Homo sapiens: one gene and its partners. The protein of the gene in region 1 interacts with the protein of each later gene in a biochemical or structural test. Each region holds a gene or a part of one and is shown in the gene's direction. Other genes may lie near its edges.

What was found.
Region 2: the proteins of AGMAT (region 1) and SHANK1 interact in a test that uses a peptide from one of them, tested with the Homo sapiens proteins (one large-scale study listed by IntAct).
Region 3: the proteins of AGMAT (region 1) and PDLIM1 interact in a test that uses a peptide from one of them, tested with the Homo sapiens proteins (one large-scale study listed by IntAct).
Region 4: the proteins of AGMAT (region 1) and FRMPD1 interact in a test that uses a peptide from one of them, tested with the Homo sapiens proteins (one large-scale study listed by IntAct).
Region 5: the proteins of AGMAT (region 1) and APBA2 interact in a test that uses a peptide from one of them, tested with the Homo sapiens proteins (one large-scale study listed by IntAct).
Region 6: the proteins of AGMAT (region 1) and MAST2 interact in a test that uses a peptide from one of them, tested with the Homo sapiens proteins (one large-scale study listed by IntAct).
Region 7: the proteins of AGMAT (region 1) and SNTG1 interact in a test that uses a peptide from one of them, tested with the Homo sapiens proteins (one large-scale study listed by IntAct).

The regions. Positions count from the first base shown.
Region 1 is NC_000001.11:15,571,199-15,575,051, reverse strand, and holds the end of AGMAT (guanidino acid hydrolase, mitochondrial precursor), read left to right. Parts: intron 1-210; coding exon 211-295; intron 296-1,327; coding exon 1,328-1,401; 3' UTR 1,402-3,353; downstream 3,354-3,853. UniProt on the Homo sapiens protein: Hydrolyzes linear guanidino acids to form urea and the corresponding amines. Displays specificity for substrates having a negatively charged head group and short chains including taurocyamine, guanidino propanoic and butanoic acids.
Region 2 is NC_000019.10:50,660,803-50,664,302, reverse strand, and holds part of SHANK1 (SH3 and multiple ankyrin repeat domains protein 1), read left to right. Parts: intron 1-1,620; coding exon 1,621-2,338; 3' UTR 2,339-3,500. UniProt on the Homo sapiens protein: Seems to be an adapter protein in the postsynaptic density (PSD) of excitatory synapses that interconnects receptors of the postsynaptic membrane including NMDA-type and metabotropic glutamate receptors via complexes with GKAP/PSD-95 and Homer, respectively, and the actin-based cytoskeleton.
Region 3 is NC_000010.11:95,284,504-95,288,003, reverse strand, and holds part of PDLIM1 (PDZ and LIM domain protein 1), read left to right. Parts: intron 1-3,500. UniProt on the Homo sapiens protein: Cytoskeletal protein that may act as an adapter that brings other proteins (like kinases) to the cytoskeleton. Involved in assembly, disassembly and directioning of stress fibers in fibroblasts.
Region 4 is NC_000009.12:37,649,631-37,653,753, forward strand, and holds the start of FRMPD1 (FERM and PDZ domain-containing protein 1), read left to right. Parts: upstream 1-1,323; 5' UTR 1,324-1,464; intron 1,465-4,123. UniProt on the Homo sapiens protein: Stabilizes membrane-bound GPSM1, and thereby promotes its interaction with GNAI1.
Region 5 is NC_000015.10:29,049,974-29,053,473, forward strand, and holds part of APBA2 (amyloid-beta A4 precursor protein-binding family A member 2), read left to right. Parts: intron 1-3,500. UniProt on the Homo sapiens protein: Putative function in synaptic vesicle exocytosis by binding to STXBP1, an essential component of the synaptic vesicle exocytotic machinery. May modulate processing of the amyloid-beta precursor protein (APP) and hence formation of APP-beta.
Region 6 is NC_000001.11:45,810,112-45,813,611, forward strand, and holds part of MAST2 (microtubule-associated serine/threonine-protein kinase 2), read left to right. Parts: intron 1-2,337; exon of another isoform or gene 2,338-2,460; coding exon of another isoform or gene 2,461-2,478; intron 2,479-2,836; exon of another isoform or gene 2,837-2,889; coding exon of another isoform or gene 2,890-2,916; intron 2,917-3,500. UniProt on the Homo sapiens protein: Appears to link the dystrophin/utrophin network with microtubule filaments via the syntrophins. Phosphorylation of DMD or UTRN may modulate their affinities for associated proteins. Functions in a multi-protein complex in spermatid maturation.
Region 7 is NC_000008.11:50,792,907-50,796,406, forward strand, and holds part of SNTG1 (gamma-1-syntrophin), read left to right. Parts: 3' UTR 1-3,500. UniProt on the Homo sapiens protein: Adapter protein that binds to and probably organizes the subcellular localization of a variety of proteins. May link various receptors to the actin cytoskeleton and the dystrophin glycoprotein complex.

The DNA.
Region 1 (3,853 bases):
ACCACACCATGCAGCCCTGAGGAGCAGGGACTGTGTACGCATTATCTGTTTCTCTGGGAGGCCTGCCAGTGTGCCTGGCAGTCAACAAATGTTTATGGAGGGAAAGCCAATTCCAAGTCAAAGGGTGGCGTGGGCTGGGAAAAGCTCTACTGGGTGCTTTTCACTGTAAATGATTACCACTGTGGACAACTCAGTCTTGATCTTGAATAGGCTCTGGAGATCATCAGGGGTTGTCAAGGCCTGAACGTGATGGGCTGTGATCTTGTCGAAGTTTCACCACCGTATGATCTTTCTGGTGAGTAAGCAAAGAGACTGAGATCCATGGGCAGCCGGTAGCTTAAATTACACGAAGCTAGTTAATAAGTAGAAAATGGGGCCAGGCATGGTGGCCCAAGCCTGTAATCCCAGCACTTTGGGAGGCCAAGGTGGGCAGCTCACCTGAGGTCAGGAGTTCAAGACCAATTTGGCCAACATGGCGAAACCCCATCTCTCTAAAGATATAAAAATTAGCCAGGTGTGGTGGCACACACCTGTAATCCCAGGTACTCAGGAGGCTAAGGCAGGAGAATCGCTTAGAACCTAGGAGGCGGAGGTTGCAGTGAGCTGAGATTGCGCCACTGCACTCCAGCCTGGGTGACAGAGCGAGACTCCATCTCAAAAAAAAAAAAAAAAAGATGAGTCCCTTATATGACTTGGGGAAGCAGCTGAGCATGTCCAATGGTGAAGAAAACACACCTATTACTGCACACCTTACAAACATGAGCTCATTAACCCTAACAAAACCCCCAGGAGGTAGTTAAGTATCATTAGCTTGCCCACCAATCAGCAGAAGAGAAAGAAACCAGCCTGTAGTCTAGTGACAGGGTGGCCCAATCCCCGTCTCCTTTGATGTTTCATTGCAAAGTGAATTCTAAAGCATAAATAATATATGTTAATATTTATCAAATAGGAACTTAGCTGGTTAAGATCTTCAAAGCAGACGCCATCCCAATAATTTTAATGTAGACAAACTTATGGAATTAGGCCTATCGACCTCAGAGGATAGATAATACAGTACACATCATTATTATAGGTTCTCCTTTGGGAAAAATCTGTTCTCAGAGTAAACAAAGAACTTTCTGAATTTTAAAATATGATTCCCAAATGATGCTTGATGGAGGCAGAGAGCCTGGGCAAGCGTGTTCACAGCTGGCGGGCACCCTAGAGGGGTGCACAAGACAGGGCTCTGGAAAAGGAGGCACAAGGGGAAGAGAAAGCTGAGGAGTCCCAAGGCTTGGCTCAGCGGGTCGTCTGCAGGGTATTCATGTGAGGTTTTACTTTTTCTTAGGGAACACAGCCCTGCTGGCGGCTAACCTGCTGTTTGAGATGCTATGTGCTCTCCCCAAAGTGACAACCGTCTGAGTCTTGTGCTCTTCAAGACAAAACAGATTGCGTCGCTGACAAGTTCTCAAGAAGAACTTATGAGTAAGCAGTCTGAGAACTAAAGAGTTTATGCCAAGAAAACTTTCTGCTGAAAGTGTCATTGCTGGCTGTGAAGTCGGGATAATCAGTAGAATTCTCACCCAAACAGCAACATTTCTAAGGAACTTGGATTAATTGGGGGAAAAAAAAAGGAGTACTTGTACTGCTTTGATTTTTTTTCCTTTGATGAAAGATGGAGGATAAAGGGGAAGTGAGGAGAATTTCTTTCAAGATTATCTAAACATTAGAAACATGACATTTAAAAAAACTATGAAATAATACTGTATAAGCATTCCATATTTCTATATCTTCCTTTTAAACATTTTTTTTTTTGAGATAGAGTTTTGCTTGTCACCCAGGCTGGAGTGCAATGGCATGATCTCGGTTCATTGCAACCTCCGCCTCCCGAGTTCAATCGATTCTCCTGCCTCAGCCTCCTGAGTACCTGGGATTACAGGTGCCTGCCACCACGCCTGGCTAATTTTTGTATTTTTAGTAGAGACAGGGTTTCACCACATTGGCCAGGCTGGTCTTGAACTCCTGACCTAAGGTGATCCGCCCGCCTCAGCCTCCTTAAAGTGCTGGGATTACAGGCATGAGCCACCGCACCCAGCCGCTTTTTAAAATTTTGATGATCTGCTTCCTAGAGTATTGAGTATCTTCCTTTAAACTACAGCTCCTCCTCGGACGCTGCAGTGAGCTGAGATCGCACCACTGCACTCCAGCCTGGGTGCCAGAGCAAGACTCCATCTCAAAAAAAAAAAAAAAAAATACAGCTTCTCCTATGAGGTGCTTAGGGCTGCATCTTGGTTTTAGGACCACTGTGAACGTAAGTAAAAAGTATAAAGTAACACGGAGAGCCTAATGAAGAAACTTCTTGCTCAGAGGCCTAGAAGGGTACACAAAATGTCTTCTAAACTAGAAAACCTAAGGCTGGACACGGTGGCTCATGCCTGTAATCCCAGCACTTTGGGGGGCGGAGGTGGGCAGATCACTTGAGGTCAGGAGTTCGAGACCAGCCTGGCCAACATGGTGAAAACCCATCTCTACTGAAAATACAGAAGTTAGCTGGGCGTGGTGGCGCGTGCCTATAGTCCCAGCTACTCAGGAAGCTGAGGCAGGGGCATTGCTTGAACCCGGGAGGTGGAGGTTGCAGTGAGCTGAGGTCATGCCACTACACTCCAGCCTGGGTGACAGAGTGAGACTCCGTCTCCAAAAAAAAAAAAAAAAAAAAAAAAGCAGGCCGGACCCAGTGGCTCACGCCTGTAATCCCAGGCCTAGGCGGGAGGATCACCTGAGGTCAGGAGTTCAAGACCAGCCTGGCCAACATGGTGAAACCCCGTCTCTACTAAAAAACAAAACAAAACAAAACAAAACAAAAAAACCCCAGAAAACAAAACAAAACTGGAAAATGTCAGCTGGGCTTTTTTTTTTTTTTTTTTTTCTGAGATGGAGTCTCGCTCTGTCCCCCAGGCTGGAGTGCAGTGGCCCGATCTTAGCTCACTGCAATCTCCGCCTCCTGGGTTCAAGCAATTCTGCTGCCTCAGCCTCCTGAGTAGCTAGAATTACAGTCATGCGTCACCACGCCCGGCTAATTTTTGTATTTTTAGTAGAGACGGGGTTTCACCATGTTGGCCAGGCTGGCAGCTGGGCTCTTAATGTTACTTATTGTAACTCACTTCCTGTAAGACTCAATCTACTCTTCAAGTTGATGTACCCTCTATGACTGTAATTCCTGAAATCTGCAGTTATGCTGTGGTGATCTTAAGCGTGTCTTGAGTTCCATGCAAATTCAATTCTGTTGATAATGTGTCCATAATCAAATCATCATCTTGCAATGCAAGGGCTACCCCATAATTATCAGACATTAAAATAGTTTATTTCTTTTTCCATTCTGTAATCTTAAAATAACATCAGCTTCAGTGCCTGTTCACAATACAAAAAAAGTCAAAAAACAAAAACAACACCCAAAACATAAAAAAGAAACAATTTGCCAAATAAGTTATTTGTTCCTAAGAGTATCAAAAGTGCAAAATATTCACCTTCTTTTCAGATCTCTCCCAAGCATAATTATCCTCCTTGACAAACTGAACAGACAGATTCAGCAGCTGCCACACTGCACTTGTTTTTAGGGGACAATGTCAGACAGGTGGATGTGAACTACAGTTCCTCTGTAAAGATGTTTGGCATCAGCTTTTAAAGAATTCTAGTTAACAAAACAGGTCTGAGTATGTGCTTCCAATCTCTATTCCCAAACAAAGGAAATCACTAAAAAAACAGATCACACTTCTTTTTATAACAGAAAAATATTTATGTAATGATGGCAGCTGCAAATTGATTGGGATGTTAATAAATAAAAAGGAACAAGTATCAACAAGCTGCAAATGAGGAA
Region 2 (3,500 bases), on another chromosome or scaffold:
GCTTCAGATACACAGAGGGTTGGGAGCAGGTTTTAAATATCCTTGTCCATCTACAGAGTTCACTTGAATTCTGTTTGAAGGTCTGCTATCCAAATGTGTCTGACCTTCAAATGTGGGTTCAGGGAGTGTATATTTGGGGCAACTTAAATCTATGCTCCCAGGTTGAAAAAAAAAAAAAAAGAAAGAAAAGAAAAAGGAGGCTGGGCACAGTGGCCTGCCTCTGTAGTCCCAGCTACTCAGGAGGCTGAGGTGGGTGGATCACTTGAGCCTGGAAGGTTGAGGCTGCAGTGAGCTGATATGACACCAAGGCACTGCAGCCTGGGGAACAAAGTGAGACCCTGTCTTAAAAAAAAAAAAAAAAAGAGAGAGAGAGAGAGAAAGAAAAGAAAAAGGAAGTGTATATTATTAGAGCAACTTGAATCAATGCTCCTACGCTGTAAAAATAAACAAACAAATGTGGGTTTATTAGGCCTTTAAGAACTGAATGCAATTCCTTGACTATTCTTAAGTATTCTGGTTAGAGAAGAGGATTTTTTTTTTCTTTTCTTTTTTTTTTTTTCCACTGCTTGTAGCAGCAACAGGAAGGATGCTTAATTCAGTCAACAATTGCATTAATTATTGACTCATGACCTATGTGTGCAGAGTGCCCTTCTGGGTGATGGGATCCCCTGCTGGACAGGACAGGCAAAGACTGTGCAACTCCACAGGGCTCATAGTCTAGGGACATAGGAGTGGGGGCGGGGCAGTAAACAAAATAATTGCAACCATCCTACAAAAAAAGCTACCACAATGGGATGGGTGGAGAAGGTCTCTCATGTAACAGGCAAGGTGGGCAGAGTAATGAAAGTGGAGAGGGAGCAGCTGCCCAGGGCAAGAGTGAGCCAGGCAGGGGGAGCAGCCAGTTCAAAGGCCCTGAGGTGGGACAGTGCTGGAGGGGAGGGAACGAAAGGGATGAGGGGAACCTTTTTCTCCCCTTGTTTCTTCTCTCTTTCATCTCCCTCTCTTCATCTCTCTCTCTCTGTGTCCCCTGTCCCTTCCATCTCTCTCCCCTGGATGCTCACCCTCTTTTTGTCTCTCTCTCACTGTCTCCCCATCTTTCACTCTGCTACGACTGGCCATAACCTGAAAGGCAGTATAGAATAGTGGTGAAGAGCTCAGACTTTGGTGCCATATAACCGGGCTCTGCCACTTCCTGTGTGTCCTTAGGCAAGTTATTTAACCTCTCTGTGCTGATAATAATAGTAACCTGCATCAGGGCTGTCGTGGGGATTAAACTGAGATGCAATCATGTAAAGCACTTAGAACAATGCCTGGCACACGTGAGCATCAGTAAGCGGTGACGATTATTATTATTATCACTTAATGTCTCTTTTTCTTTCATCTCTCTTAACTGTCGCCCTCTCCCTGTCCTCTCATCTTTCTCTCCCTTCATTTCTTTCCTCGACGGCCGGCCGTCTTACCCCTTGCTCCCTCCATTTCTTCCCGTCTCTCCTCCGTCTCTCCCCCTACCCTTATGTCTCTCCTCCTCTCTCCCTATATCTTGACCTCTGCCTCTTTCTCACCCCTGCCCTTGCCCCCTAAATCCCTGTCCTCCCCCACTGCCCCCTTGTCACATTCCAGACTCTCCGACGACTCCCAGTCCTCACTCCTCTCCAAGCCTGTCAGCAGCCTGTTTCAGAACTGGCCCAAACCACCTCTGCCGCCACTCCCCACCGGAACAGGGGTCTCCCCTACAGCCGCTGCGGCCCCAGGGGCCACCTCACCCTCAGCCTCCTCCTCCTCCACGTCCACCCGCCACCTCCAGGGCGTGGAGTTCGAGATGCGGCCCCCTCTGCTCCGCCGGGCCCCCAGCCCCTCGCTGCTGCCCGCCTCGGAGCACAAGGTCAGCCCTGCGCCCAGGCCCTCGTCCCTGCCCATCCTGCCTTCCGGACCCCTCTACCCAGGCCTCTTTGACATCCGTGGCTCCCCAACTGGAGGGGCAGGAGGCTCGGCTGACCCCTTCGCCCCAGTCTTTGTGCCGCCACACCCGGGGATATCCGGGGGGCTCGGGGGAGCCTTGTCAGGGGCCTCGCGCTCCCTCTCACCGACCCGCCTGCTCTCGCTGCCCCCGGACAAGCCGTTTGGCGCTAAACCTCTGGGGTTCTGGACCAAGTTCGACGTGGCTGATTGGCTGGAGTGGCTGGGTTTGGCGGAGCACCGAGCCCAGTTCCTGGACCACGAGATCGATGGCTCCCACCTGCCCGCCTTGACCAAGGAGGACTACGTCGATCTAGGTGTGACCAGGGTGGGCCACCGCATGAACATCGACCGGGCTCTCAAATTCTTCCTGGAGAGGTGATGGCTGGCCTGGACGGACCAGCCCCGTCCACAGAACTCTTGAGCCTGCTGGCCTCTTGACCTCTGACCCCTGACTGTCATTCTCTCCCCGGGCCAGGGACTCTGTTCAAACTGCGCCCTGCCCTCATCTCCCAAGGCCAGAGGTCACCAGGTGGCCCAATCCAGGCCGGACATTTGCACCTCACTGAAGGGGGGCAGCTGACACAAGAGTGTGTGTGTGTGTGTGAAGCGGGGAGCGGAGGGGGGATAGGAGAAATTACAGAGGGGAATTGAGAAGGAGGGAAGGGCCTATTCTGGGGGGAGGGGATAGACAGAGCCATAGAGGGTCAGCCCTGAGCCCGATTGGATGGGGACTGTCCCCCAGGCCGCAGGGGAAGGGGGTGCCCTCGGATTCCACCACCTGCCACCCCTCTAACAACCCTTCCCACTCTCTCCAGGCCCCTCAGCTCTCCCCCCTTCCCCTCTCCCCAGCACACACAGCTGCCCCCCTCAGCCTCTTGCACGCTCCGTTGCACGCCTGCTCACCTCTCTCCCCTCCCGTCCCCGGGCTGCAATTTTGCACAAATTTGCCCTCTCGCTGTCTTGCACATTCTGCCTTTGCTTCTGGCTGGCGAGGCCCGCTCAAATACACTCTGCTCTCCTCGCACACGCTGCATTTCCTTTCTCACGCTCCATGCCTCCTTCTCTGCTTCTTGCTGCTTACACACTTTTCCCCTACCAGGGCCCTCCTTTACACACTCCATTTCACATCTCCTCCTCCCCGCTCGCTCTGGACCCTTGTTGCAGACACACTTGGGACACATTTTCCCTCCCCCTCACAGACTCCATGCACATCATTCATTCTCTGGAGTGCCCTGCTCTTTGCTCAGCCCTTGCACACTTGCTATCTTATGCACCCCTCCTGACACACTCTTACCTCCATTTTCTTACGTTGAAGCACTTTCCCTTCTTATTCTTAAAAACCCCAGATTCTTCCACTCCCCAACTCTCCCCTCTCACCATGACACTCCTAGCCCCCCACCCCCCGCCTTCCCTCTTGCCCCTTTTGCACCGTCACTTTTGGTCACGCCTTTTGCACACTTGCCTCCCAGAAACTGTTTCTCTCACACATGCTCATTCTCTTCTTCTTTGCCAGGCTCCCACTCCCTTGCCCCTTTCTGTTT
Region 3 (3,500 bases), on another chromosome or scaffold:
TTACCACCTAAATTAGGTATCCCAAATACCATAGCTTAATTTTGCCTGTTTCTGAACAGACTCATACAGAACACGTGTGTGTGTGTGTGAACAGCTTCTTTAGCTCCTTAATGTTTTCATCTAGTATCGTTATCAACTTAAAATTTCAACCCAGGTTTCCAACTTTAAGTGGACATAGGCTAGCTTCTTTTACCCACATTCTCGTTTAGTGCTCTTGCCTTGTGTTCCCTGATGATCCAGCCACACATTTGCCACTGTTCTCTGATATTTTTTTCTGTCAGTTCCTGCTTCAAATCAACACTTGCCCATTTCCTTGAGGTATTTTTTTAATTAAAAAAATTTTCCATGTTAATTTCTCCTTCCCTCTAGTTACTTTCAAGGGAAGCCTTCAGAGAAATACCCAGGCCAACATTGCAACTCAGTTTATGTTGACTGTTTTTCTCTCCCAGCAACTGATAAAAGACAGGAAAGGGTGAGGCCAAGATCAAGGGATGCCCTTAGTTGGAGGAGTTGCTCATTTGTCTCTGGAGTCCTGGGGAACCCTTTGCTAAGAGCTGAGCGGTTCTGTGGCAAATGCTTATGCTTTTTCTCAAGTATCCCAAGGGATGCTTAATAATGGTTACTGTGGCCAGAGGGTCATTTCTGATTTTTAAGAGTGGTATTTCCGGATTCAGATAGATTTTACATCATGTCGTAAAGATTGAAAGAGAAGGGTTTGTCTGTCAGATTATGAAAAGCAGGAAATGTCCAAAAAGGGTCATTATGTTTTAATGGCCATTGTGCTGCATGCCCTTGGTCTGTGAAATTGATACCTGGGAAATATTAGCGACTTCAGCTGCTCACAGCTGACTTAAGGAGAGAGGGGGAAGAGGACAAACCAAAGAGAATGACATGTAAGTGAATGCCTGAGCCCATACTACATTATCACCCTCTGACCAGATAGTCTCCCCTCCCTAAACTCCTGATGCCAACCTTGCTGGTTTGTTTGAGGAGGCAAGAGGGAAGAACAGTGGCTTTAGGGTATTGCAGCCAGGTAGATGACTGAGAGGAGAGTGTCATCTAAGCGTCTGGGTCATATTCTCCTAGGCTGACCAGGACTGGGAAAAGCACCAAGGAATTGCTGTGTACTGGGATCAGGATAGGACTGGCACATTCTTAGGCCATGCCTTAACTCTTGCTCCACAGAGGAGAGGAAAGCTAGCATTCTTTGCCTTTTGCAAACAGAAAAGCTCAGGTGCTCACAGGTTAGGTAATTTGGTTGAATTTACATAATTTCTCACTGGCTGACTTACTACTCAACTTCCTTGTAAAGGATAGGATAGAGACTGGAGCAAAAGTGGTTGTGTCAGAAAACTAACTTTTAAAGGATTATTTCGCTTCCAGTAGGTCTCAGAGGAAAGCCTGGGGGAAGCTTCCAGGACTTTAATTGAGGGCCTGGTACAATGTCCAGGGCAGGGACTCAAGCTGAGCTCTAGTCCGGAGCACCTTGGTGGGTGATCCTGGGAAAATCATATGTCTTCTCCTGGGTTCAGTTCCCTGTAAAGATAAAATAAAATAATATTCCCTGTAAAGATAAAATAAAATAATAAGCAAGCAAACCCAGAGGTTTTCATACCCTTTGAATATGAGAGCTACTTTTTTTTTTTTGAGACAGGGTGTCGCTCTGTTGCCCAGGCTAGAGTTCAGTGGCATGATCTCGGCTCACTGCAACCTCCACCCCCTGGGTTCAAGCGATTCTTGTGCCTCAGCCTCCTGAGTAGCTGGGATCACAGGCATGAGCCACCACATGTGGCTAATTTTTGTATTTTTAGTAGAGATGGGGTTTCGCCATGTTGGCCAGGCTTGTCTCAAACTCCTGGCCTCAAGTGACCTGCCCACCTTAGCCTCCCAAAGTGCTGGGATTACAGGCATGAGCCAAGAGCCCACTTTTTTATTGTTAGAGTGTCCTAGTCTCTCATGGCATTAGTTGTACCTTCAATCATAAGTTGATTTAGAAAACACTGTGATTTCAGGAATGTTTCAGATGTATTTGTCTTCTGTTAATCACAGCAGCATCCATTTACATTTGAAAGATTTGTGTGAGAAATATTTATTTGATCTGCTTGCAGTAATAACCATAGTTAAAACATATATAGGACTTTTAATATGCCAGGCACCATTCTAAGACCATAATATATTCAGTGATCTTCACACGTATTTTGTGAGGTAGGATTAAGATCCCCATTTTACAGATGAGGGAACTGAGGCTTGGAGACCTTAAGTACACTGCCTGCATCATATAGCAGTGAGTGGTAGAGCTGGAGTTTGGCTGGGGAGTCCGGCTTCCAAGCCTGTAGTCTTAATCTCTATGTCATAGTAATATATTAATAACAGCTAACATTTTTTGAGTGCCTGCTCTGTGCTAAGCATGCACTTACATTATCTTCTTCTGTATTCCCCACAACCCATGACAGAGGGACACAGAACACAAAGTCAGACAATTGCAGAGCTGGGAAGTGAAGCCAGGCAGACTCACTTCCAGGCCAGCTTTAACCACTATATTCTGCCTCCTAATAAGCCATAACTGTCAATATTTCATTGCTAACAGTGTTAACCCAGCACACAGCTCTGAAAAGTGCTAAGGGTGGTGCAGGCTTCAACATGAGGGATAAGACACTCCTGGGCTCCACACCCTGGAGCCTCTCATTCTCCTGAGGTTGGTTGGGGTGGCTCTCCAGTTGCCTTGTGGCCTCAGCTCAGAGCACCTCAGAAAGCAGCACCTCCCTTCCCTGTCCCTCCTGAAAAACTGAAAGTCATGGCCCCACCTGGGAGAATTTACAGTCCAGTTATGAGGTTCCATGCCCACTTGGACAGTGAAGAACAAGAGCAGAGGAGTGGAAGGACTGGCTAGAGAAAGACCTGCTTGTGGGGGATAGGAGGGCATTTGGGAATGGTTCTTGTGGTAGATGAAGATGACCAGGCAGTGAACAGTTCCACCTTGCGGTAGCCAAGCTAAGTCCAAAACCGAATATACCCATGAAACCTAAGACAAAAAAGGTAATTCCTGTATGGCTGTTAGCACCCTGTGTGATTATTGATACTCTTGTTAGCCACATCCTGGGCAAATTGGGCTGCTCATCCGTGGCTGAGTTCTGTGGTGCACTTTCCCATGTGTAATACACTGTCTCCTTGGTAAATGCCATAAATACTAAAAATGATTTTGTGAAGAACACAGCGGTCTTGTAGGAGGCCAGATTCCTTACTGAACACTCAGGGACTAATTTTTATAGACACGACCATTCGTATCAAGTAAGACAATAAGAACATAGATAGGACCTAGTTTAGATAAAGATATTGAAAATGCATACAGAGGCTGGGCTTGGTGGCTTATGTCTGTAATCCCAGCACTTTGGGAGGCCAAGGTGGGTGAATCACCTGAGGTCAGGAGTTTGAGGCCAGCCTGGCCAACATGGTGAAACCCTGTCTCTACTAAAAATTCAAAAATTAGCCAGGCGTAGTGG
Region 4 (4,123 bases), on another chromosome or scaffold:
TGCTGCTAGTCTTCCCCCACCGCCCTTGGATGAAGGATGCACTTGTTAACATCTGCCTGTGCACCATCCCCAGAATGATCTAACATCCCAGTCTGATGGTGCCTCAACCCTACTCAGAACTCCTCCCATGAACCTGCCAGTGCACTGGGAACACGGTGCAAACTCCTTGACCAGGAATTGGCCCCTGCTGACTCCCCTGCTTTATGTCTCAACTCCTGCCACTCCCTCTGTGGGATCTCTCTCATCTTGGGGTCTTTGTTCCTGTGGTCTCAACCTGAAAGGCTCTCTCCACACTCCTCCCTTTCACTGGCCAATTCCACTGGCCTTTCAGGTTTCCATTTAGAGCATGCCCTCTCCAGGAGGCCTTCACTCAGTCAGTGCAGGCCTGAGTGGTGCCCTTGGCCCCGTGGGATTGGGTTATTGTTACAGGAACTGGACTGTATTTTAATAGTCCTAGACTGTACATTCCATGAGGACAGGGACTGCTTTATTAAAGGTGTATTGTATCTCCAGTGTCTAATGCAGGATATGGACCTCGTAGGTGTTCAGTAGAGTTCAGCACGGAAAATAGTGCACAGACACATGCATTTGGGTATCATGCTCAGAGAGGCGGTAGGACCAGAACCAGGGGAGTGGGTGAGACGGCTCAGGGGGTCAGAAAAGGGCTGAGTGCAGAGTCCCAGGGCGCTCCGGCATTTTAGAGCTTCTGGTTTGAGGAACCCTCAAGGAGACCGAGGGAGTGGCTGGAGAGGGCCGAGGAAAGCTAGGAGAACACAGTTTCCCAGCGCGGAAGGAGTTTACAGAGACAGGGGAGGTGGTCCACAGTGCCTACCGTGGGCCCACGCTCTCCCTCTCCCTTCAGCCGAACACCTGCGGGGCGTGGGGGTCAGGGGGCGAGTCCCCCAGGGCTCCCCGTAGCTGGGGCTCTTCCTGGGGAAAAGGAGGCGTGAGAAGGGGGTCGTTTTGGGAACTCTTCTGGGTTCCAGTTCTGGCCCAACCACCGCTGGTCCGGGTGACCTTGGGGAGTCCCTTTCCTCTCCCAGCCTCAGTCTCCCCCCTGGGTACTCAGCGGACGCTGCGTGCCCCGGCGGTGAGCTGAGGCAGGCGGCGGAGGCAGGGCCCGGGTGGGAGCGGGACCGCCCACTGCGGCGGGCCGGGACCTCGGAGCCAGCGGAGGCGGCGCGCGGGGCTCCTCCCCCGGGGCGGGGGTCGCGGCGCCGGCAGCTGGCGGCCGCGCAGCTGCAGCCTCAGCACCTGCCGCCGCCAGACGGCGCGGGCGCGGCCCGGCCCGGCCAACCCCTCCGGCTGCAGCCTCGGCGCGGGAGGCGGAGCCCGAGCCGAGCCCGAGCAGCGCTGCTTCCCGAGCCTTGGCCGCGACCGTGCCCGCCGCTGGGCGGGGCCGCCCTTCTCCGAGAGCGTCAGCCCGCTAGGTCCTTGTCCGCGCGGGCGGCACCTCCTCTGCAGGTAAGGGAGGGGTCCTGGCACCGCAAAGTTTTGGGGAGACGGCCTGTCCCCACACCCCGGGCCTGCGCCTCGGCTTCCTCCGCGCCGCCCTCCGCCTGCACCACCAGTCCCGGGTGACCCGCGCCCGCCTCCGGTCCTCGTGTCCCCAAGCCCGGCTCGGGGGCGCGTCCGTGGGCTAGCTCAGGACCTGCCATCGTGAACTGTTTGCACAGTAGCGATGTGTGCTTAAGTTTCCGAGATCTGCATGGTGTAGTGAGTGGAAACAGCGGCAACGCGGGAGGGGGAGAGACCTGGGTTCAGGTGCGGCCGCGGCCAGCGCCAACTTTCTGAGTGACCTCAGACCAACCCTCTCTGTCCGTCCTCGATGGCCACACCTGAACCAGAAGGGGTTCGCCAGGGACGATCAGCTGCAGTGCCAATGCCTGTGTTGTCATTTTTTGAGTAGAGGGGCATCCCTGAGTGTCTCAGCTCCAGAACTCATTGCGTGTGGAGAGGAATGAGCCACAGAAGTCAGTCTCCAGGGTCGCGTCGCTAACTTGCAGCAGCTTTGACTGAGCTTTAGTGGGGGCGTTGAGTCAGCCTCGGGAAGCAGGGGATGCCCCTAGGGTTAGGAGTCAGGACTCTGGCTTCTGGTGGCTCCTCTGCCATACACCCACTGTCTGTGTGACCTTGGGCAAGTGCCCCCTGCTTTTGCCACCTATAAAATAGGGTGGAAGTCGTGTTCACTAGTTGTTCGCTGTCTCTTTCAGCTGTAAACTCTGGAGAAGCGGAACCTCCGGATCTCTGCATTTAGTCAGTTTGGGTGGAGGCAATATTTCACCAAGAATCCATCTAGCACTTGCAAATGAACGTTTAGAAAATAAAGGAGGCATTTGCAGTTTGCTTTGGAAGTCCCAAAATAGACATGGGGAGGATTGGTGAACGCTCAGTTCGCCTTCTTCAGTGCTTTGGACCGTCATGAAATATTCAACGACATAATGATTTGTTTTCAAAGTGGCTTATAGATCAGGAAGCGTTTCTGTTTGTGAGTCGGTTATTTTTGTAAAAACCTCAGAATGGTTGTTTGGGAAAAAAAAATAATGCACTGTTCTAGGGGTCCTGACCTAGAGGCCAGCATCTACTTGTTTCTAGTCTAAGATGATGGTTGAGATGATTTCCAATCAAGACAATTTCGGGCATCCTTTGGTCGGTGTTGAGTATGGGTACGGTTAAGGAGCCAAGTTCATCTTTTCCAGGACTGGTGCATTCTGGCACAGTCACAGCAAAACAAGCACGAGGTAGTTAACTGTGATATGCTAGAAAGTGAAATTTATTCTTTTGCCCAATATCTTGTTCCCCTTGTGCTGCAATTAGTGGCTCCCCAGTGTGTGGGTGAAACGCATTACCACGAAAGGATTCTCACAGAAGTGATTTTATGATTTTATTTCCTTCCTCGACATCCTGGTTTTAAGTTTCTAGCATTATGAAATCAGAGAGCTGGTGAGGGTGTGCTTGGTGACCAGAGCAGAGTTGTGGTACCTAAGTTTGTCTTTCCTGAATGAGACCCCATCCTTGAAGCTAATTTGTCCAGAGCCTTTTATCTCTCTGACGCATTCAAATGCCACCAGTCTTTTCCCTCTTCATTCTCTATTGGTTCATCAAGCACTTTCTCACTACTCATTCGAGAGGACACAAACATGAAAATTACCAACAGGCCCTACCCTCAAGGAGCTTAGGTTCTGTTGGGGAATAGAGAGGCTTGTGCCACAGGATCTTCATTGTGGGCTTTATCGCCTGGGATTCCTGTGAACACTAAGGAGGGTGAATTCCAAGTGGAGATATTGGAGAAGGCTTTACAATGGAAGGTGGAGGAAGAAGAGGATTTCAACAGGTGGTGAGGAATAGAAAGGCTATGTGTAGGTCAAGGAGCTGGTACGAGCAAGGAACTGGTGAGAGCTGGGAGAGCATGAGACAGATGAGAGCAGTGAGCCTGGTGGAAGCACAGAGAAGGCAGAGCACTTCAGAGACAGGGCAGCGGGAAGAGGCTCTGGAGGCTCTGAACCTGGGCTGGAATCCTCGCTGGCTGTGGAGTATTGGGCCTCCGAGCGTCACTTTTTTAATTCGTAAAACGGGAATAATAATAATTCCAAACTCACAAGATTAAATGAGATCATGTATAACAGTGTCTAATAGGATGTTTGCATGTAATAGGTGTTGGATAAAAGTCAATTCTTTTTATCAGAGGGTTCATGGGCAAGCTGAATAAGTGTTTGAAGGCACCATTGGAGTAAATAGTGCTTTTGGTTTAAGCATGTGCATTGATTTAGAACCTCACCAGCAGCAGAGAGTTCTTGTGACAATGTGATGTGTCCTCGAGGTGCCTCCTGATTCAAGGGGCAGGGGCTTTTTGTTATTTGGAAGGTGTTCAGATCAGATACTAACATCAACAACAGGCAATGCCCTGTAAATACTGTTAGGTGGTGGGAGGTCACAGAAGGCTAATCAGAAGGCTCAATCCCTGCCTCACACAAGCTTATCACTATGTACTCAAGGACCCAGATTGGTGGGGGAGGGGGGCAGATTTGACAGACACAGCTCTAAATATATCAGCTTTGTCCATATAGCTGGGAGCGGGGTACTGGCTCCCTTCTGTCTTAGATTTGCAGTGGTCAAAGAATAG
Region 5 (3,500 bases), on another chromosome or scaffold:
TAAAGTAAGATGTGGGACTTGATTCGGAAAGGGCTCACCAAATGAATCTCACATAAAATTAATGAGACCCTCATAAAATTAAAAAAGACCCTTATCTAGACATAGTTTGCTGGAATTTCTGAACTCTAAGAGTGGAGAGGAAATTGTATCAGCTTCCAGACGGAAGGAATAGATTTTTGTACCAAGGTAAAAAGAATCTGAATAGTATTAAAATGCACATCTGCGAGACTGTAAGCTAGAAGATAGTGGAACAGTGTTAGCAAATTATTGTGAAAAGGATGCAATACAATAATCTTATACCTAGCAAAGGTATCATTCTATGTGAGATCAGAGCCATTTTATAGATACAAAAGAGTTACCTCCTAAGTAAACAAAATGACTCTAACAATTATTTTTACAAAATAAAAATGAAATCCCACTAAATAGTTCAAGAGAAAGAAATGCAAAAAGTATAGGAAGCAGTGGTAAGTTATGAATTGAGTAATTATAGTCCAAATTATATTGTTGTCGTAGTGTTATACATCTGGAATAAATTTTTCTGAAATCATCTGAAGGCTTGGAGAGCTAATAGGAAACACCAGTGGAAAATAAACTCCTGGTTCTATTGTAGTTCTCCTACAATGTCCTCAGTGTTTTCATTTTTGAAAACTTGAATAACATTTTAATAGGATCTGGACTGTTCCATGTTACTGTAATGTGTATTTTAGTCCTTATGTCCTATATTGGCCTAGAGAATATTTTATTTAGTGTTGGTATACATATTTATATGTGCATATTACAGATTTTATCCCCCCGAATGACAGAGATTTTGAAGTTAAGATAGCAAGAGTACTGTGTACTTTAGTTTGTTCTCTTAACAAGGATGTGCATACCTTCAACGTGCACAGCTTGATGTCAGAGCCTGGCGAGAAACAGGGATGCTGTAGAGATGGCACCGCTATGCAAGGAATGGGAGCTGTGTGCTCATGTGCCAGTGATGTACCATCTGCCCTTTGCCGTCCTGACGTCAAGACATGGACGTCTGGTTGCATGTTAGCAGCTGCATTCAGCACATGCTTCTGAGAGACCGTTTTGAGGAATGTAGTTACTGGAGATTGTGTCTGAGAGTTGTGGTTGCTAAGTCCCTGACATCACTCCTGCAGCCTCTCTCTTGTGGCTGGCTGTCCTCTGTGAAGATAAGAAATCTGGTGACAAGTTATATGTGGTCTTTGAGGCAGCTCAGTGTTCTTGATGTGTCCTCTGACACATCTGGGTTGCAGATGTCTTAGTGAGTGCTGGCCCCTTGTTCTCTTCTAGGGAACAGCTCTTTCGAATTGTCCTGCCAGTTTCAGGGTTTGCGAATGGGGTGACGGGCCCTGCAGGGTCCATCTCAGTGACAATTTTCCTGGTGTGGGACATCTTTGCTGTCTGTGGGCCACTCTAGGGGGAGTGCTGTGAATTGCTCCGCATACCAGTGATGCTCCTGAAACACGGCCATGGACAAGCCTGTGCAGGTGGCGGAGTAAACATTGCTTCTTTAGATGTCAAGTGTCCTTGGAGTGAATTCACACGTTGGAAGCATGTGGCTCCATCAGTAATTGTGCCCACACTCTGAGTGTCTGGACTGGATGAAATAATTATCTCCTTCTTCGTTCTTTTGGGAATATTCATACTGCTGTAACCGTGACCATCTGGTACACTCAGTCTCATAACAAGATGTGTTTTGGGCACCACTACAAACAAGGTGCTGTGTTTGGAGCTCTGGGGGGATACACAATATGGAAGGCCTTGAGTTTGTGGCCTAAACTAAAGAGACAAGAGGGGAAGAGGAGGTACAGGAAGGCAAGATGAGAGCCCGGGCAGTGACTGCTGAGGGTCACTGATAGCTCCTCTTTCATCTTCACTTCCTGCTCCCATCTGAGCCCAGATCCCTTTGCTTCTGCCACCTAAGGTCCTCACTGAGCCACTTCTCCACTGTCCTCTCTACTGTTTTAGTTTAAGCTCTCCTTTTTTTTCTTTTTAAAAATTGCAGTAAAATAGACATAAAAAATTTAGCATTTTAAGCATTTTCAAGTGTGCAAGCTCTTAACTGGACTACTGGAATATGTTTTTTTAAATAATTGAACTATCATGCAAGCAAAAAGGCATGTGTAATGTAAGAGTACAGTTTAAAGAATATGACAAACATTTGGGGAAGCAATTAGCTGAAGAAGTAGAACGTTGCTGGGCGTGGCGGCTCACCCCTGTAATCCCAGCACTTTTAGAGGCCGAGGTGGGCGGATCACGAGGTCAGGAGATCGTGACCATCCTAGCTAACACGGTGAAACCCCGTCTCTACTAAAAATACGAAAAATTAGCTCGGCATGGTGGGGGACACCTGTAGTCCCAGCTACTCGGGAGGCTGAGGCAGGAGAATGGTGTGAACCCAGGAGGTGGAACTTGCAGTGAGCTGAGATGGTGCCACTGCACTCCATCCTGGGCGACAGAGCGAGACTCCATCTCAAAAAAAAAAAAAAGAAGTAGAACGTTAAGCAAACTTTTGGACGTCCTCTGTGCCACTTTCCTGATGCTAGCCCCTTGCTTTCCCCCAGAAGAGAGAATAGCCTTTTCACTGGTCTCCCTGCCTCTAGCCTCTAGCCTCTGTCCCCACGCCAGGCCCAGAGAGACAGGGCTAAAAGAAAAAATGTTGAAAATGGCTCAGTGACTGTGCACATGTCTTAGTCTGTTTTCTGTTGCTATAACAGAATACCTAAGACTGGTTGATTATAAAGAATGGAGATTTGTTTCTCACAGTTCTGGAGGCTGGGAAGTCCAAGGTCAAGGTGCCAGCATCTGGTAAGGGCCTTCTTGCTATGTCATCCCAAGGCAGAGGTGAGAAGGTGAGGGAGAATGAGAAAGAGAGCAAGAGAGAGCCAAACTCACTTTTATAACAAACCCACTCTCACAATAAAGAACTTCCTCCCAAGATAAAGACATTAATCCATTCATGAGAGCACAGCCCTCATGACCTAATCACCTTTCAAAGGTCCCACCTCTCAACACTGTTGCATTAGGGATTAAGTCTCCAACGCATGAACTTTGGGGGACATATTAAGGCCATAGCCGTGTGGTTTGGGGGATAAAGTGCAGAGTCCTGGGCACTGGGTCCAGGCCCTCTCCCAGTTTGGCCTGCCAGGTCTCTGCAGCTGCCCTGTCACCCCACGATACCTGCAGGCTGCGGCTGCACCCTTTGTCCTCTTCTCCCCATGGCCGAGCAGTGCTGTCCCCTCTGCTGAGCCCTCCAGCCTGCCACGCTGGGGACTTGTGTAGAGCTTTTCTGCACATTGCTCAGCCTGGATGGTCCCTGCGCATCCAGTTCCTCGGTGAACATTGTTCAGTTTGAGGGGGAAGAGGAGGGAGAGGATGGGATAAGCCTGAAGGGGAAGGTACCCAAGATAGTCTTTGAGGGGTCATGGATTTAGATTGGGAAGAGTTATTGTCCCTCCTCATTGGTCCTCATTATGTCTTCTTAATGAAAGCTG
Region 6 (3,500 bases), about 30 Mb from region 1:
GTGCTCAGTCATTATTTATTGAATGAATGAATGGAGAATGATTCAAATATTTTGAATTTTGGTAATTTGAGTAATAATGGTTATATGATAGGAGTAGACAAAGGAAATAGAATATTTTTGAGGATGGCAGAAGATGAGTTCAACTTTAGTTCCTAAAATACCCTCAGTGTGACAGAAATTTTAAAAAATTATTTTAATGGAAATCAGAACCTCTTTCCTCTGCATTACAGGGTTAGTACATTGGGAAAAGCATAGGGCAGAAAGCACACAGAAGGGAAGCTGCGTAATATATATAGGGAACTATAATCGGTTTGTTATTGCCAGACCCAGAGCTTTACGTTGAAGGTGTAAATGCTAGGTTAGAGATTAAAGAAGCCTTGATTGTTGAGGGTCTTTAGTGTGATATAAAAGGATAATTGGCTGGGTGTGGTGGCTCACGCCTGTAATCCCAGCACTTTGGGAGACCAAGGTGGGTGGATCACCTAAGGTTAGGAGTTTGAGACCAGCCTGGCCAACATGATGAAACCCCATCTCTACTAAAAATACAAAAATAGCCAGGCGTCTTGGTGGGCGCCTGTAATCCCAGCTACTTGGGAGGCTGAGGCAGGAGAATTGCTTGAACCCGGGAGGTGGAGGTTGCGGTGAGCCAAGATCGCGCCACGGTACTCCATCCTGGGCGACAGAGCGAGACTCCATCTCAAAAAAAAAAAAAAAAAAAGGATAATAAGTAGGGGAGCAGTATATTCTTTTTTTTTTTTTTTGAGGCAGTCTTGCTCTGTGGCCCAGGCTGGAGTGCAGTGGCACGATCTCAGCTCACCGCAACTTCCACCTCCCAGGTTCAAGCTATTCTCCTGCCTCAGCCTCCCAAGTAGCTGGGATTACAGGCATTGGCCACCATGCCTGGCTAATTTTGTATTTTAGTAGAGACGGAGTTTTTCCATGTTGGTCAGGCTGGTCTCAAACTCCCGACCTCAAGTGATCCACCTGGCTCGGCCTCTCAAAGTGTTGGGATTACAGGCGTGGGCCACCGTGCCTAGCCGAGAGCAGTATATTTCTTTTTTTTTTTTTTTTTGAGACGAAGTCTCGCTCTTGTCTCCCAGGCTGGAGTGCGATGGCACGATCTCGGCTCACTGCAGCCTCCCCCTGTGGGGTTCAAGCAATTCTCCTGCCTCAGCCTCTCGAGTACCTGGGATGCCACCACGCCCAGCTAATTTTTGTATTTTTGTATTTTTTTTTTTTTTTTTTGAGACGGAGTCACGCTCTGTCGCCCAGACTCGAGTGCAGTGGCGCGATCTCGGCTCACTGCAAGCTCCGCCTCCCGGGTTCGCGCCATTCTCTTGCCTCAGCCTCTGGAGTAGCTGGGACTACAGGCGCCCACCACCACGCTCGGCTAATTTTTTTGTATTTTTAGTAGAGACGGGGTTTCACTATGTTAGTCAGGATGGTCTCGATCTCCTGACCTCGTGATCTGCCCTCCTTGGCCTCCCAAAGTGCTGGGATTATAGGCGTGAGCCACCGCACCCGGCTTTTTTTTTTTTTTGACACAGAGTCTCACTTTGTCACCCAGGCTGGAGTGCAGTGGCCTGATCTTGGCTCACTGCAAGCTCTGCCTCCCGGGTTCCCGCCGTTCTCCTGCCTCAGCCTCCCGAATAGCTGGGACTACAGGCGCCCGCCACCACGCCCAGCTAATTTTTTTGTATTTTTAGTAGAGACGGGGTTTCACTGTGTTAGCCAGGATGGTCTTGATCTCCTGACCTCGTGATCCGCCTGTCTCGGCCTCCCAAAGTGCTAGGATTACAGGCGTGAGCCACTGCGCCTGGCCTAATTTTTGTATTTTTAGTAAAGATGGGGTTTCACCATGTTGGCCAGGCTGGTCTGGACCTCCTGACCTCAGGTGATCTGCCCGCCTTGGCCTCCCAAAATGCTGGAATTACAGGTGTGAGCCACCGCGCGCGGCACAGGAGCAGTATATTCTTATTTGTGTTTTAGTTGGATTACTCTGGCAACTGTGTGGAGGATAGGATGCAGGACATGCTGTTTGAGACATGAGCATTTGAGAAATCTTCCGAGTTTTCAGTGCAAAAGTTTATTTGACCTCCTTTCCCTCTTATCCAGGGTATGGGTAAGGGCTAGCTCCTAAAAAGGTGTTAACTTTGAAATATTTAGTTTCATCAAAAGTACTGGGAGCAGAGAGTCTATGGTGGCTTGAAGCAGGTTGGCAAATGTTCCCTGATGAGGGTAGGACACATGTGATTACAGAGTTTTCCCATCATTGTTCTGGATGTCTCTTGGCCTAAAGATCAATCTGTAAGCCTTTTTTTTTTTTTTTTTTTTTAGACGGAGTCTCGCACTGTTGCCCGGGCTGGAGTACAGTGGTACCATCTTGGCTCACTGCAACCTCCGCCTCCCAGGTTCAAGTGATTCTCCTGCCTCAGCCTCCCAGTAGCTGGGATTACAGGCATGTGCCACCACGCCTGGGTAATTTTGTATTTTTAGTAGAGACTAGGTTTCTCCATGTTGGTCAGGCTGTCTCAAACTCTCGACCTCAGGTGATCCGTCCACCTCGGCCTCCCAAAGTGCTGGGATTACAAGCATCGGCCACTGTGCCTGGCCCTACTCCTATTTTTAATAGTCCGTGTAACATTTTCATTTGGATAGCTCAGAGACCTCTCAAACTTAACATGTCCAAAAATGAAGTCTTGATTTTCACTTTCTAGTCTGCTTCTTCCCCAGTCTGCCTCATGTCAATAGATGGCACTACTCATTTACCAGAACAAAACTGGAGGTTGTGTTTGATTTTTTTCTTAACCTTACCTGTATTCCACATTCAGCCCCTCAGGTCTGTTTGCTGCTACAGTTGTCCCTCAATATCTCTCGGGGATTGAGTACATGACCCCCTGCAGATACCAAACTCTGGTATGCTCAAGTTCTATCTATAAAATGGCATAGTATTTGCATGTAACCTATGTATATCCTCCCATGTACTTTAAATCATCTCCAGATTATTTATAATATATAATACAATGTAAATGCTATGTAAATAACTGTTACACTCTATTACTTAGGGAATAGTGACAAGAAAAAAATATCTATACATGTTCAGTATAGATGGAACTATTCATTTTCTTTTTCTCTGCATACAGTCATGTTCCGCATAATTATGTTTTAGTCAATGATGGATGACATACAAGATGGGGGTCCCATAAGATTATTATTATTATTATCATTTTTTTTTTGAGACCGAGTCTTGCTCTGTTGCTCAGGCTGGAGTGCAGTGGTGCGATCTCAGCTCACTGGAACCTCTGCCTCCTGGGTTCAAGCAATTCTCCTGCCTCAGCCTCCCAAGTAACTAGGATTACAGGCAGCCGCCACCACGCCTGGCCAATTTTTTTTTTTTTTTTTTTGAGACGAAGTTTTGCTCTTGTCCCCCAGTCTGGAGTGCAGTGGCACGATCTTGGCTCACTGCAACCTCTGCCTTCCGGATTCAAACAATTCTTCTG
Region 7 (3,500 bases), on another chromosome or scaffold:
AACCATAACATCACCAAGTCGACAGTGGAGGCAAATCAAAATTTCGGCAGAAAAAGAAGGTCATGTGGAACCTCAAAAACACTTCTATTCTGGATGACATCTGTGAAATATACTACATGAACAGAACAGCTTGTTCTCACTCAGTTGCTTTGTACCAGTAAGTGTATTGCTTTCACCAAAAGTGGAGACAAAAGAATAAATTATTTGAAGAAGTATGTAAATAACATAAAAATAGTAAGCTACCTATGAATAAAAATACTTATTAAATGATTACTTCTGTATTTTAGATTATTTTGTATGACTAGTACATGTTGGGCAGAGTCATAGGAAAACAAATGCCCTATCTTGTATTATGAGGGACATAAAAGAGTTAAAAACCATAAATCAGCAAGGAGCATGCAAAAAAATCTCATCAAAGAAGGATGCACTTTAATTTGCTGATGTAAATTTGCCCTTGTGTTCTCATCCCATGATTTGACACTGGCATTCCAATTGTTTTTATCTTATTGTAAATATTCCGAAGAACTTCCAAAGGATAATTACATTGACCCATGATAGATACAATGTGAAATGGACTATTCTCCCTTGGATCACTGTTATTGAAATGTCTTATTAGCTGCCAAAGTCAATCAAATATGCCAACAGTGTATTAATTTAATTATGAGTGATGGAAAATTTCATGAACCTCTCATTTCTTCCTTGGTTTGAAAGAGATTTGTATTTTACCTAATAAGATTTATTATCAAATTAAAGTTTCATAAATTTTCAGTGAACCCAAAACCTTTTGTAGAGAAAATAATATAAACAAATATGGTGTGAGAAACAATTCTTTGTAATCCGAAGTCTACTAGTTAATCATGAACTAAAATGTCCCCCGAAAACAGTCCCAAAGCTATTATAGATGTTAATTAAATGACATTTTTTCATTTTAGTACTATTTTATGAGAAACAAAGGTGATATTTAAAGATAAAAGTTAAAATTCTTTAACCTCCCTTGTCATGGAAAGTGATTAAGTAATGCCAACTATGCAGGTTGTTTTAGGTATTTTGTCCTAAGAATGTAAATGTGAAAGGCTGGGAAATTTGAAAGCCTTAGAGGTGTGCAATTTACTCAGATTCCAGGTATTATTCAACTAGTTGTATAACATGGAACACAGTCTCTGTCCTTCAGTACAGCTTTTTTGAGATATTTTAAAAAGTCAGCTGTGTATGTAAAAAAAAAAAAAAATTTTTATTGATACACATGCTCCCAGGTAAACCAAGTATTATGTGTGTCCTTGTGGAGATAACCAAGTATCTAATAAATTGATTCAATTTTTTTTTTCAAATATGTTTTTAAAAATCACTCAAGAAGGAAACAAAGTGATTTCTATAAAGGACAGATTTACTAATTTAAAAAATTAATATCAAGTTGTTTTTATACTCATGATTCATTAATTTATTTTGCATCAGATTAATTTGTAAATACATCAAATTGAAAAGAAAAAGTGAGGGTTTATAATTGTCCCTGGGAAAATGTTAAACTGAATCTAACATACCTTACCCAAAGAACTGTGGCAAATTACAATAAACAGTTTCAGTGTAATGTATTTTGACCGTAAAACTAAGTACACATTTGTAATTAGGATAGAACTTTAGAATTATTGCACACTATATTGATCAAATACAACAGTCATTGTAAAATTGAAACCCACCAAAAGCAGCCTTCAGTAGTAGGCCACTTCTGAACTTATGGAGAAAAAGCAGTGGGATACATCGAACTTAGAATTTTCAGCTGTGGCAAGTGGTTCATTATGGAACTTCTGCTTCCAACCAGAGCTGAATCTCAGTGTGCCCCATATTGGGGTTACATGAATGTGTCCACAATCTGGAAGGCAATATGACATGGGCTAATTATCCATAAGCAAAAGAAAAACGTTTCAACAGTTTACCTACCTGTAATAGAATGATTTAAAAATTGTGAAATTTTGTAAACGTTCCATTTTAGAATTTAAAAAACCTATTAACCATTAGCTATCTTTTTAGTGTTATTATGAAAATTTAGCCTATGCTCATGTGTGTTACGAAGGAAAAGGTGCACAATGAGATATGTATAAATATATATCTCCTCAGAGAATACACACACACCTACATATGTATTTATATGCATACATGGGTGTATATATATATAAATATAATGAAATGCTGACCATTAATTATATTAGAAGAATGTTTTGTGTACATACATTTAATATACTTTAAATTACGTTGTAAAATGTAGCTTGATTAAAAACTTATGACAATACCATTATGAATATTTTTGATACTATTGATAAAAAACATAAGCCGTGATTTTTATTTAACATGATTAGTACAACAGCCAAAAAGTAACAAAATACTATTCTCGTTTTCATCAGTTTAACAATTAGTATTTAATGTTTTCTTTACAATGTGGTGATTAGTCATTGGCATTTGTTATAACTTGGACTACTTGAATGAGAAAGCTTTGAAATGAACAAAAACACTTAAAAATTTCTATCTCTCATATAATTTAGGTTTACATGTAAGAGATTTATTCATAAAATCCTAGTTTGTACATTAAGCACATTTTAACAGCAAAATGCTAATGTGTTAACCCCTCCAGTGCCTTGGTATGTGTGAGCGTGTATGTGTGTTTGGGTGTGTGTCTGTGTATGTGTGTGAGTGTGTAAGTGTTATCATTAAAGGGTTCATTACAGTGTACATAACACAAGCTTAATGGAGAATATTGTAGGTATTTAGGTCAGAGAATGAAGTTCAAAGTCATTTGAAAACTGCTAACTACTATAATAATGTCTTTTGCCTGATAAAGAATAACAATTCATCTAAGTCGAAGTATATTACAGAAAGGGCATTTATAATTTGTTAAAATGCAACAAGTATTTATTTAAAAAATAGTTTAATAGATAGTGTAAGTGTAATGTATATCTGAACACTTATCCAGCTTTTTTAAAATGGGAGGATAATCAGGTAATTATTTCTTGCCCATATTTCAGGCATGTACCAACTTATAATTTTGAAATCTTCGCTCATAAAGCTGTCATTCAGCAAGAAAAAGAAAGCAATTACTTGAAAATAAATGTCAAGTCCATATTAGCCATGCAAAGAGAGAAATTTTCCTTTGGGTGCATTAGTTTATAGATCAACATTTCCCTCATTTACAGTGCTGAAGCTTGATCATGAACTTTGTCTATGTTGAATGCTGGATTTAAGAAAAGCTTGATTTATTACTGAGAAAAATTAATAATCCTAACGATAATTTAGAATTACTGCTAGAAATCAGCAGTGTGGAGAAGCTTTAAAAGCACAAGGATGATCTTGTGCTTAACTTTTTAAGGTAAGTGTAGATGTTCGGATACTAATAACAAAGATTTTGCTACTATTAATATTGCTGTGCTCATAATTTCTCCTTATGAAATTGCTTTATTCATACTTCTAAAATTGTTCTTTATTGTTTATTCTTACTACCGAATACTTTAAAA